Linked DNA regions of Homo sapiens. The protein of the gene in region 2 interacts with the protein of the main gene of each other region in a pairwise test. Each region holds a gene or a part of one and is shown on either strand. Other genes may lie near its edges.

Evidence for each region.
Region 1: the proteins of TCF7L2 (region 2) and UFSP1 interact in binary tests that used the Homo sapiens proteins (3 or more experiments, as listed by UniProt).

The regions. Positions count from the first base shown.
Region 1 is NC_000007.14:100,888,221-100,893,644, forward strand, and holds UFSP1 (ufm1-specific protease 1), read right to left. Parts: upstream 1,496-5,424; 5' UTR 1,280-1,495; coding exon 623-1,279; 3' UTR 501-622; downstream 1-500. Other genes in the region: SRRT (serrate RNA effector molecule homolog), read left to right, coding at 37-163, 254-329; ACHE (acetylcholinesterase), read right to left, coding at 1,994-2,115, 2,949-3,118, 4,114-4,598, 4,945-5,424.
Region 2 is NC_000010.11:112,946,028-112,953,640, reverse strand, and holds the start of TCF7L2 (transcription factor 7-like 2), read right to left. Parts: upstream 3,395-7,613; 5' UTR 2,885-3,394; coding exon 2,696-2,884; exon of another isoform or gene 2,634-2,695; intron 2,435-2,633; coding exon 2,368-2,434; intron 2,159-2,367; coding exon 2,034-2,158; intron 1,864-2,033; exon of another isoform or gene 1,299-1,863; intron 1-1,298. UniProt on the Homo sapiens protein: Participates in the Wnt signaling pathway and modulates MYC expression by binding to its promoter in a sequence-specific manner. Acts as a repressor in the absence of CTNNB1, and as activator in its presence.

The sequences.
Region 1 (5,424 bases), on a different chromosome or scaffold from region 2:
CATAGTTTTGCAACTCAACACTGATCTCTGTCATAGCTGGTGCTGTCCGCCCTGCAGTCCCCACAGGAGGCCCTCCATACCCCCATGCCCCGTATGGTGCTGGTCGAGGGAACTATGATGCCTTCCGAGGCCAGGGAGGTTATCCTGGGAAACCTCGCAACAGGTGAGGAGGGCAGACGCCCAAGCTTTGTTGCCGCCTGCAGACTCCCTTTTGGGAGCCCTCAGCTCTCATCCTGTACCTCTCACCTCACAGGATGGTTCGTGGAGACCCAAGGGCCATTGTGGAATATCGGGACCTGGATGCCCCAGACGATGTTGATTTCTTTTGAGCCGTCCCCCGTTCCTCAGTCCTGTATCATCCATACTTGTACTACCTTGTCCTATGAAGCTCTGAGAATTTTTTGTACGATCAGCCTTACTGCTAATAAAAGCACTTCCACAGGGCTCCTGACTCTCGTGTGTTACATAACTCCTCCATCCTTCCAGAGTAACTCCTGAGGTGTTGCTCAGCCCTGCCACTTTTATTATTGATGTCAAAAGCGCCAGGCTTTGCAGGGACACCAGTGGGAGGTACATAGGTGCGTGTCTGGGACCCGAGAATCTCAGTTCTGTAACTTCGTCCTCAGTCCAAGGTGCGCTGCTGCTGTTGGGAGCTAAGGCTGGTCAAGCACAGGTTGTAGAAGGAGTTGGGGTCAAAGGCTGCACTCACCTCTTGCCAGCCCACCCACCCAGCAGCCTGTAGTTCACTGGGGCTTTTTGGAGTGCCCCAGTAGTGAGGGTCCAATACCAGGACATAGGCTTCCGTGCCTGACCCTACGCAGACTCCCAGCAAGGCCTTGGACCTGGCATCTGCGTCCCCCCCAACCATGACTGGGCCCCCACCCCCTGCGAAGTGCGAGTAAAGCCTCTCCAGCTCCCCGTGCAGCCCCACTCCCCGGGGTACGTGGCAGAGGCGTCCCTGGGGCCCTCCGAAGTGAGCGAGGCAGAGGCTGGCCTCCACGCAGCCGATCCAGTCCCGGGAGCCCCGGAAGCCGGGGGGCTTGTCGCCCATGTCCTCCAGGGCCGCCTGTACGGCGGCCAGTCCAGGTACGCCCGCGGGCTGGCCCTCTGGCCACGAGCACAGCGTCTGCAGAGTGCGGTAGCCGCAGCCCCAGCCGCGGTCGTCCAGGCCGTCGCAGCCGTAGTGGTAGTAGAGGTAGTGGCCCGAGAGCAGCGCCAGGCGGACAGGGCCGCGGCTCGGCGGGGACAGGCCCACGTGGACGTCCCTCAGCGGCTCCAGGGCGGTGGGCGGGAGCGGAGGTCCCAGGCCAGGCACAGCGTCCTCCTAGCGGCGCGGAGCGACCTCAGGCTCCAACACTTCCTTTCGGCTCCGGGTCTTGGGCCAGCTGCCGCAGGACCGGCGCGCAGACTGGGGACGCGCTCCCCGGGCCTCGTTGATCACCGCAGGCCGCAATAGGCAGCCACCGACCGGCACCGACCGAGGAGCTCCCACAATGCTCCGCCGCGCCCCGCCCCGCCCCGCCCCTCCCCTCCCCTCCCCTCCCCTCCCCTCCCCTCTCCTCCCCTCCGCCGTGCCAGCTAGCCTGCCTGCGGGCCTCATTACGCAGGCGCGAGCTCCGCCCGGCAGGGCAGGGCTAGGGGTTGGCCTTTGCCTTGCGCCCGCCTCGGAGCTCGCCTGTTTCTTGCCCTCCAGCCCCGCTCCTGCATAGACTCGGCCCCCGTGATTCCGGCGTTCTGCCTCTACCCCTGGCTCCCTAGTCGCGCACACTCCCGTGGCTGTAACAGTTTATTGGCAGCCCAGAGGGGCGAAGGCACCGCGGGGGAGGGAGCTCAGCCTGAGACATGCAGAGGACCGGGAGCCCCGGGGGACGTCGGGGTGGGGTGGGGATGGGCAGAGTCTGGGGCTCGTCTGTGTTATAGCCCAGCCCTGAAATAAATAGTATATACAGCTAGGGGGCCGGGCGGAGCGGAGGACATGGGGGTCCCGCCGGGGTCACAGGTCTGAGCAGCGATCCTGCTTGCTGTAGTGGTCGAACTGGTTCTTCCAGTGCACCATGTAGGAGCTCCAGCGGTGGAACTCGGCCTTCCACTGGCGCTCCGCCTCGTCGAGCGTGTCTGCGGCCAGGGCGCCCAGCGAGGCGGGAGGGGAGGACGGCACGAGGAAGGTCGGGGATCGGACATTTGGGCGGGTTGAAGGGGGGGTATGAGTGCAGGGAGGACGCACGGAGAAATGCAGGCGACCACGTGGGACGGTGGCAAGAGGATCAGGAGAATGTGCGAAAGACGAGAGGGAGGATGAGGGCAGAGGCGGGGCCGGAGAAGGACAGCAGGAAGGAGAGAGGAGGAGAAAAGAATGACCGGAAGACGGGAACAGAGGGGACAGGAGGGGGAGGTTGGGGGAAAAAGAAGAGACAGAAATGGTTGACCGTTATAGCCCCAATGGGGGGTGCTACCCCGTCCGGGGCCTCCCACTTCCCCCCAATGTCAGGCTCAGGTTCCAAAAGATAATTTTATAAAAGAATACTGGCTTTTCCATTTCCATTCAAACAACAAAGGCGTGGGGGTCCCTGAGAAGGGTGGGAGGCACGGCCCCCTCCTCCTGCCCTGTCCAGTGTGAGTCTCTCGGTTTGAGGAGGAAGGGAGCACTAGGTCTGAGATCCCTGAGTGGGGCCCTTCCCCACGGTCCGACCACTCATTAGAGGAGGGGCCCCTGTGGCCGTAGGGGAAGAGGCCGTGTTCACAGCCGCCGGAGGTGGGAGAGGAAGAGGAGGAGAAGCTGGTGGAGGAGGAGGAGGGGCAGGGGGAGGCCGGGCCTCGGAGCAGCCTCCCCATGGGTGAAGCCTGGGCAGGTGCTGGGAGCCTCCGAGGCTAGGGGGAGAAGAGAGGGGTTACACCTGGCGGGCTCCCACTCCCCTCCTCCCAGCCGCTGCCCGCTGGCCCCTGCATACCGGTGGCGCTGAGCAATTTGGGGAGGAAGCGGTTCCAGAAGGCGCAGGCCTGGGCGCGCAGCCCCCGCCGCACCTCCAGCGGCCGCAGGTCCAGACTAACGTACTGCTGAGCCCCCGCCGTGTACGGGGGCCATTGTGGGGCCTTGGGGTCTCGGGGCTCATTGGGATCCCTGCGGAAGGAAGGGAAGGCTCAGTCCAGACGGGCAGTGGGAGGAGGTGGCCCCCAACTCCACGGGATCCCGGACTCTTCAGCTCAGCGGAGAGCCCCAGAGAACCCGTCCCCTCCCTCCCACCACTTTCTCCAATGTGCGCGGTCATTGGGGTCTTCCCTTCCTCAAGCGCTCCGTCTCCTTCCGTTTCCCTCAGCTTTTCTGTTCCATCTTTGTTTCTCTCACTAAAAAAATGGCTAGGATGTCTTGAGACTTTCCTAAATAACCAGGACGGGTCCTATGTCTACAAACATCACATTTTTTAACAACACCCATCCAATGCTAGATTTCATTGTCCTCTTCTCGATCCAGGTAAACTGGTGTGTGTGTGAGAGAATGTGTCACTGCTAGTGAATCATCACTGGTTTGACTTAATCCAGCTCCAACTCCTTTGTCTTGGTCTCCCTTTTTTTTTTTTTTTTTTTTTTCCAGAGATAGGGCCACTCAGGCTGGAGTGCAGTGGTGCCATCATAGCTCACTGCAGCCTCAACCTCCCAGGCTCAAGCAATCCTCCTGCCTCACCTTCCCAAGTAGCTGGGACTAGAGGCACGAGCCACCGTGCCTGGCTAAGTTTTGTATTTTTTTTCTTTTTAAGAGTCGGGGTCTTGTTATGTTGTCCAGTCTGGTCTCAAACTCCTGGCCTCAGGGGATCCTCCCACCTTGGCCTCCCAAAGGGCTGGAATTACAGGGGTGAGCCACTGTGCCCCGCCCCCTCCATGTCTACCTCGTCTCCTCCTCACTTTCCTTTGCCTCTGTCTCTGCAAGACCCCCTCTGCCTTCTCTGTCTCCTTTCTTTTTCTCTCCCCTTTTATCTACTTTGTGAGCATATCCCTCTCTGGCTGTTCTATCCTGCCCCTGTCCCACCCGTCCTTTCTGTCTCCGTGTGTCTGCCTTTGTGTGTCCTCCCGCCCCCGACTCCTGTCCTCCCCAGCCTTCTCTCCCTCTGCACTGCTGACCCTGTGCGGGCAAAGTTGGCCCAGTATCGCATCAGTCGCTGGGCGAAGATTTTCTCCTCTGCCGTGTAGTTTCGAGAGGGGTCCAGGGGGATCCCAAAGATGAACTCGATCTCGTAGCCGTGGGGCACCCCCATCCACAGGGGCCAGGAGAGCGTGGAAGCACGGTGTTCAAAGACGTAGGCGTAGACCCGGGCACCCTGGGCAGCCAGTCGCCCAGCCAGCTGGGCCACGGGGCACACGACATTGTGGTCGCCCACCACATCGCTCAGGGCCTCCCTCAGGCGTGCCGGGTCCTCGGGATGCAGCCAGTCTGTGTAATGCAGGACCACAGCCTCGGCTGCCAGGTCACTTACCTGGGGAACCCCGACCCGCACCCCGGCCAGGAACTCGGCCCGGCTGATGAGAGACTCGTTGTCTTTGCTGAAGCCTGGGGCCCCGTAAACCAGAAAATACGAGCCCTCATCCTTCACCACACCCACCAGCACCTGGGGGTGAGGGAGAGGGGGGTGGGATGGAGCGACAGGCACAGACAGACAAGTAGACAGAAACAGATGGACAGACAAAGAGCCAGAGAGATGAACAGTTACAGACCCGGAACCATGGACAGAGAGAGGACGAGATCAGGGGAGGGATGCAGAGAAAGAGAAAATAGACCCATGGTGGCTTTCCTGTCTGCCCTGCTGACCACCCTGGGATCTGAGCCCTCAGGGAGGACTTCTGGGACTTCTGGGAATGGGCCTGGAGAAGCCCTCATGCCTGGGTCCCTGCAGGGAGGGGAGGGACCGTTGGGACCCAGAGGAGCCAGCTTCACGCCAGCTAGCCACTAGTTACCTGCAGGCCGTGGAAGTCTCCCGCGTTGATGAGGGCCTCTGGGGTGTCACTGAGGAAGTCTCCATCTACCACAGGCACGAAGGAGAACCGGAAGACGCTTTCTTGAGGCAGCACGTGCCATTCGTGGTTCACCAGGACCTGCGCTGGTCGTGTCCGAAGGCAGGCTACCAGCTCTGTGTCATTCCCACCAGTGCCGCCTGGAGGACAGCCCACAAGGTGGGCCAGCTGCGTGGCCCTGCGACGGGCCTCTCCCATGCCCACCGTGGCCCAGGGTCCATTGGGGGCACCGCTCTGCAGCACGGCCCTGTGGAACAGGCCCCGGCTGGGCGGGGACAGCAGGTGCATGCCCACCGAGGCGGCTCCCGCGCTCTCCCCAAACAGCGTCACTGATGTCGGGTCACCCCCGAAGGCTGCCACGTTCTCCTGCACCCACTGCAGGGCCAGCCTCTGATCCAGGAGACCCACATTGCCCGGGGCCTC
Region 2 (7,613 bases):
AGACAGCGAGTTTAAAAAGAGTCAAGAAAGCTAGCAAGCCCGCCATCAAAGCTCAATATTCAGATGGTTAAGTGGATTTTAAAATAATACCAGGGAGGTTTCCATCGGAAGGGGGAGGGGAGGAGAGGCAGAAATTCTCAGGGATTCTTTGGAATGTTGCTTGGTCCGGTTTATTGGTAGGCGAACACTGCGATTCTGAGCCGAACGGTCCCGTTTAAGATGCCCCACAAGCTCCCAAGAAAAATACAAAGTAAGCGAACTGTGCTTCCCCTACAGCTGCAAGCCCAGAGCGCGGCCCCTGCAGCCTGGTGGAACTGGCCCTGGAGAAGGGGGTTGAGCCGAACCGCTCTCCCAGCTTCCCAAGCATGTCTGGGCGCCGGGCAGGGGGGGAATAATTATTTCTCTTCCCTAGCCATAAAAAAAATGACCGGTCTAGCATGCCCTTGCCATTTTGCCAGGGCCCAAAAAAGCAAGTCAAACCTGATAGTTAATATTTTAATGCTTAAAAACACTTGTAGATCTGATCGACTCCCGTCCGGCAAGCCCTCGGCCATTAGCACCGAATCCATGGCTGCTGAACAGTGGGTGCATTATTTCAAATTGCTATCTAGAGTTACCGAAAAAGAAAAAACAAAAGTCGTGTGTGTAAATAAGGGGTAGGGGACCAAACTGGAGAAGGTGTAAAATGACAATACCGGGAAGCCGGGCACAAATGCGTCTTGCGTCCAGGGATTCGTAATCCAGGCTTCTTAGAAGAGGGAGGGAGGGATGAGGAGGAGGGGGTTCAGGGTGAGGGCAGGGGGCACAGGCCGGTGGGGGAGGGGATGAGCCGTATTAACAAATGTCAGGGTTGGGCGCGGGACCGACCCTGCAGGAAGCGCCCCCCGAGCCCGGCACCCCGCGCTGCCCTGGGGCCCCCAAAGTTGGGTGGCCGGCGATCGGCGGCCCACTCCCTTGAAGGAGAGGCGCCCCAGCCTCCCTCGGCCCCCGCACCTCCTTGAGCCCGCACACCCTGGTCTCTGGCCCCCCTGGGGCCCACGACGGGCCTACACGGAAGCTGGCGAGCGCCGACCCCGCCATACATCCCAAGGCGCCAAAATTCCCTAGAAATACACAAGTCCGCTTGGAGGAGTCCATTCCGGCTGCACACAAACCAAGAATCCGGGCCGCAGGGGCCTCCCCGCCCCACTCAGCCCTGCTGCCCTGCGCGGCCCGGGAGAGCCCGCAGCCAGTGCGCCGGGCAGCGGAGCCCGCCACGGCGCCCAGGGCGCTCGCGGCCCTGCGGGTTGCCAAAGAAAAGGACGCCTCAGAGCCCCCAAGTTTGCGGTGGGACCAATCTGGGAAGTGTGACCTTCCAGGGGAAGGGGGAAGGAGGGCCGAGAGCCAGCAATCTCCACTAGAAAGCTAAATACATAGTCGCCCAAAAGAGAAAGCCAAGGAGCCTCTCCAGGGCCCCGGGCTCTGCGCGCTAGCCAGTTCTCAAGTCCAATGCCTGGAGGAAACCCACTCTCTACCCCGCGCATCGGGCGCAGCACAGTCAGTCACTCGTGGCCCGCAGCGGCAGCCAAGGGGTTAACCGGGGAAAGCCCAAGACGCCACAGAAGAGGGAAGGAAGAGAAGGAGAGAGAGGGAGAGAGAGCAAAGGAAGAGCCACAGAGTCATCTTCCCAGGGTGAAGAAACAAACACCACCACCAAAGGGGGAGGGGGAACCAGAACGCAAAGGAAAGTTCTTCGGATTCCCCCCCCTCCCCACCAACAAAGCCCTGCTTGGACAGAGAGGTCTCCCCAACATCACGAGGCAGCAAACTGAAAGCAAGAACGTGGCGAAGTGCAAACAAATCCAGTCCACAAAAGGCAGAAAAGTTTGGAGAGTTTCGGGCCTCCTGGGCCACGAGCGGGGGAGGGGAGGGAGGGAGGGGAGGAGGCGGGGAGGGGGAGGCGGGGAGGGGGCAGGGCAGGGGCCGCATGCGGGGCCCGGCGGGCGGCGCGGGCGGGCGGGCAGCGGGCGGGGGCCGGGCGCGGAGGCACTTACGGTTCGGGCGGTGGGCGAGAGCGATCCGTTGGGGAGGTAGGGGCTCGTCAGGTCGGGGATCATGATGAAGGGGTAGCCGGGATACGGTGGCCCCTTAAAGAGCCCTCCATCTTGCCTCTTGGCCGCTAACATGGCGGGGCGGCGAGGGGACAGCGGCGGCCGCGCGGAGCGGGAGAGAGTGAGGAGAAACTTTTTAGAAAGTGCCCCGAGGGGCCGGGCGCCCCGACCGGGCCGGCGCAGGGCCAGGCCGAGCCGGGCGCGGGGCCGGGGCGCGCGGGGCGGCCGGCCCGGGGGGCGGCTCCGGGCGGCTGCGGGGCGCGCGGGGCGTACTCACCTTCTTCCAAACTTTCCCGGGATTTGTCTCGGAAACTTTCGGAGCGAGGCGGAGGCCGTCTTTCCGCCTTCCCAGAGGGGTGGAGGTGGGGAGGGCGAGGGGCAAACGCCACGCAGAAGGGGGAGAAGGGGGAGAAAAAGAATCGGCGAGGTCGAGGGGGGGGTAGAAAAAAACAGGGTTACAAGTTTTTGCAATGGTGGCACCGTACGCACACGCCGCCCGCCGGGCCCCGCCGCCGCCCCCAGCCCCGATTTCTCCCCTTTCAGCAACATTTGCCAAGCCCAGGAAACAGATAAAAAACCCCACCAGCCCGAGGGGCTTTTCCTACCTCGGAATCGGAGGAGCTGTTTTGATTCGTTTCTGATTCATTGACTAGAGACGATTTGACATCAGCTAAATCCCTCTCTGCCGAGGAGTTTTCGGAGCTCTTCTCCTCCTGTTCGCCCTCGTCTTTGAAGGAAATCAGTTCGTCGTTGGCGCCTAGGTCATCCCCTCCACCGCCGTTCAGCTGCGGCATTTTTTTTTCACCCACCAGCAGCAATTTTGGAAGAAAAATGAAGGAGGAAGAAAAGCCAAAAAAAATCACCCCCAAAAAGTTTTGCCCCCCCAAAAAATATTGCAAGAAAAAGACGAGTCCAAGGTGAACTTTTTTCTGCTTGGGGGTCTTTTTCTCCTGGGGAGGGGAAAAGAGGGAGGAGGGGAGGGGAAGGGGGGGGAGATCTTCTGCACGCGTGAGTTTGGGTTTCTTTTTTCTCTCGTTCCCAAGGATCCGATCAATGTGCAAAAAAATAATAAATAAAAAAGGGGGGTAAAAAAAAAAAAAACACCAACAACAACAAGAAGTCAGATATAAAGAGCAAAGGGGGGGGGAAGCCGAAGATACAGGAGGTGCTCGTGCCGCTCGGATTTGAGTGAGTTGAAGTTAGACTGAGAGCTTTTCAGTTCAAAGGCGGCGCTGATTGACAGATAGAAAAAGGGGGATCGAAATCCGGAGGAACGGAGTAGTCTGGGAGCGGAGATTATTGACAGGGCGAGAGGAACACACTGCCTTAATGAGATGCCGGAGGGCGGGGCCGGCCCAGTGACGTGTGCATAAATAAACAGCCGGGGTGGGCGGGGCGGGGGCGGCTAACAATGATCCTTTCGGGCGCCGGGAGAGGGAGGAGGGAAAGAAGGAGGAAGAGAGGGGCGGGGAAGCCGGGGGGAGACGGAGGGAGGAGTGTGCAGGGGGAGCGGCCTGCGCGGAGTGTGTGCGAGCCCGGGATTCTGGGCGAGGGTGCAGGGACTTGCTCCGGGAGGGGGCGGTTTCAGAAAGACAATGCGGGGTGGGAGAGGAGGAGAAGGGGGTGGCGACCAAGTCAGGAATCCGAGCCGAGGAAGGCGGAAGGAAAGCCCACTTGGGGGGCGGGGATGGGGAGAGGCCCAAAACAGTGCACTTTAGAAATATTAGAAATAAGTCTTAAGGGAGGGGGAAAAGGAAGGGTAGTATTTGAGAAAGTGGTGGCTGGGGGAGGGGGTGGGGGGGTGCTTGGTGGTTAATTCAGCAGTGAAATCAGCCACCCTTAGACGGGATGCGACAAAAGTGGTCAAAAGGAAAGATCAACCCTCCACTTTCAGAGAGCTTGGGGAAGTGAAGGGGCTGGTCAAAGTTCCTGGTCATCTACAATGAAAGAAACTATTAACCCATGAGGCCTCCCTCCTCCCTTTTTTGTTTATTAGTAGTGAATCATTTCATGAAATGTTAAGTCCCACTAGGATGGATATGCCAAAACGACTTTTTATGCAAAAAACAAATGCTAAATGTCAGAAACATTAAAAGTATCCTTAAGGAAAAATATATGATTCTTTTAAATGTAGAGTGGTGTTTTGCTTTTTTTTTTTTTTTTTTAACTGACGTTGGAGGTAGTAGGAAATGAGCTAGAGTCAAAGTCCTTTTTGACTTAGGAGGTGAAAAGTTTGGGCGTTAACACCGTCAGGGAAAATAAAACTGAAAGTTCACCAACCCCTGGGATCAGTTGGGCTACAGTGTTTCTCGAAGGGGGTCTGAAATGAAATCCCCGAAAGACTGACCAAAATAATCAAGATGTAGGTGGCTCTGGCAGGAAATTGCTAACCAAACCGATGCTAGAAGACCTTCGGGAGAAGATGGGAAACCTGGGGCTTGAGGCAGGTATTTGTTGACTTTTAGGTATTAGAGGAGGAGCAGACTGATTTGCTACAAAATGGGGAATGGAATTATGTTAAAGAGGAAAGACCCAGCTCCCAAAACACAATGTTCCTGGGTGATAGAGCAAGAAAATTCATTTTTGCAAATACCCAGTAAGAAGTAGACTGGACACTACAACATGAAAAAGAGAAAAAAGAAAAAAATAAATCAGTAGGATTTAGCAAATTGCCTCTTAGGAGTAGTATTAGTCTAGAGTCCAGGATGTACTGTTGTCCCACCCTTCCCTGAAAAAGCTCACCTGCACTTCAGCTGGCCCATCAGCACCGAGGTTTCCAAAAGAAAGCAAATTTGCCATGTAATATTTAGAGAGTTTGGGGTTTCAGCAAAACTGTTTTATAGGCTAAAGTCTCAGAAAGACTACTAAAAATAATGATACCGAGATTGACAAGGCCAACGAATTCCCCTGCACTGGAAAAAAATCACAACCACATTTGCACACTAAAGAATAAGATGCAGGCAAAATAAAAATGGGTTGGGGGGGAGGCAGAGGAGAATCACTGTAACTCCCAACTTTGATATTAATCAGAATATCAGAAGTAGAGTGAGAAGGAGCCTGAAAAGAAGTAAAACAAATGTGTACATTTAATCAGACAGGATTGCATAGGATACAAAGCACAGGGCTAATTAGTCTCAGCAGGTAGGACTAACCTTCAGACTTCATAAATAAATAAGGCAGGTGCAGTGTCTAAGAGGGAGAGTGGAGACAGAAAGGGGATTATTTCAAGACACCAAGTGAAAACATGAAGAATGAAATGCTTCACTGTTAAATCCATGTACAAATGGACTTAACAGTTTCCTTTTTTAGGTCTTTTACTTGGTTGCCTTTAGATTTACACATTTAGCGAAATGACCATAGCTTTATACACTTGCTAATTGTCACCTGTATACTTGATGTGCCTAAGTCTGTCTATATGCAGCGTAGACTTTACTAAGGCTCATTTTAGGGACTTAGTTACTTAAACTGGAACACATTTATAGGAACTCAATTTTATGGCAATTTCTTTGTCCTGTGTGGTAGTTTTTTGTTTTTTATTTTTTTAATCAAACCCTGGTCTGAATTAAGTTGGATAATGAGGTCTTCTATGTTCTTTATAGTACTACCTGTATAATAAAATCTCAGGAATATACTGAATTGAAATTTTAAAGAATGTACTTACTGATTTTACTATACTGGCCTGCATTTTTATCATATGTAAATACTAAGGGCTTTGTTCCCATGATTAGTAACTTTATCCATTTTGGCATATCCTTATTTTTCTCATTCAAAGGGAACTCTTTTGAATCTCTCCTTCCTTAAATCTCTGATTTAATTAAGCAATTAAAAAGTTATTCTGTGATAGTGCATGTCCCACATTTAATTTCGTTGCCTGGTGCTGTACAAAGGCTTGAGTAGACCAGCAAGATCTCAGAGGGGCCAGATCCCTGATGCTCTGCAAGTCCCTCAGGTGATGCCTGAATTGAGGAGCGGGGGGGAATGGCAGAATTGGCACTGCAGTAGCCAGGCAGCAAGGTATTGAAAAATACCTTGAATAGCCGGGCGCAGTGGCTCATGCCTGTAATCCCAGCACTTTGGGAGGCCAAGGCGGGCGGATCACGAGGTCAGGAGATCGAGACCATCCTGGCTAACACGGTGAAACACCGTCTCTACTAAAAATACAAAAAATTAACCAGGCGTGGTGGCGGGTGCCTGTAGTCCCAGCTACTCGGAAGGCTGAGGCAGGAGAATGGCGTGAACCCGGGAGGCGGAGCTTGCAGTGAGCCGTGATGGCGCCACTGCACTCCAGCCTGGCCAACAGAGCGAGACTCCGTCTCAAAAAAAAAAAAAAAAAGAAAAGAAAAAAAAAGAAAAATACCTTGAATACTATTTGAAAAAAAAGGTAGGCTGGCCCACAATGTGAATGTGTAATTTATAGATTTGGTGTGAAATTTTAAACACAGTTGACTTGGGTCCAAGTGCTGAGGCAACTTCTCTGTGGATACTGATGACTCCTGGTTTATAGGACCAAGCGTTCTGCCCAAATGGCAGAGATTTGAAAAACACAGGAAACCAGACCAGTTCTGACTTTAGCCTGAGCCAGGGGATTTTGCCACCATGGGCTCTGCATGTTGGGAAATGGGTGGGAGGGGGGAGAAGCTGTGCCCTCATCCCTTGGAATCCAGTTAGGTCTCTGCATATTTTGGGAGGAAGGCAGGGAGAAGCTGGGCCCTCACCCCTTGGAGTCCATTCCTGGCGCCAGTCCAGGTCCTGAACTGTAAGTAGCTGTCCCTAGGCCTCTCTGACTTTGACCTCGCCCTCTTCATCCACTGCCCTTCTGCTGCTTCTCTTCTGTTTTCTCCTCTCCTTCAGCCCTCCCTTGATTAAATCCTTCTCTTTGGATACATGCTGATACCTTAAAACTTAAGTGAGTAGTGTTACCTCTTCCAGAGGTGCTTCCTTGTTTATCCCTATCAATGAGCATGAAAAGGAGGTTTCTGTTTACACAAATCACCTTTTAAGTGTTGGTTCCCCACGTGGGAGATATGGTGAAGTGTTAGGTGCCCATTGAAATACAGGAATGTGCCTGACAGGGGACTGCAGAAATAGGCCTGCCACAGGCTGTGTCACCCACGGCCCCTTCGTCTTGTCTCACCTGGTGGATGAGGTGGTTGGAATGGGCTTTTTTAAGTTGCCTGTTAATATTTAAAAGTCCGTGATTCCATCGTTTCACCACACGCCCCAGTTATGGCTCAGAGATTCACGCACACCAGCAAAGAAGACAAACCATATTGAAAGCTTGGCTCTGGAATTTGAGAAAAACAAGGCTAGTCTGTCAGATTTACCCGAAGTGGGGAATACATGTTGACAACCATATTCAGCTCCCCCAGTCACTCGGCAAGATTCTGCTAAGTTACCCTTGACAGTGATATGTACATGTGTGGGTGTGTGTATTTGTGTTCCTGTGTGATTTTTCTTTAAAGATCTGGGCTCCAAGATGGATGATCTGTTACCCCACTGTGTTGGACTTATCTATGCCGGGAG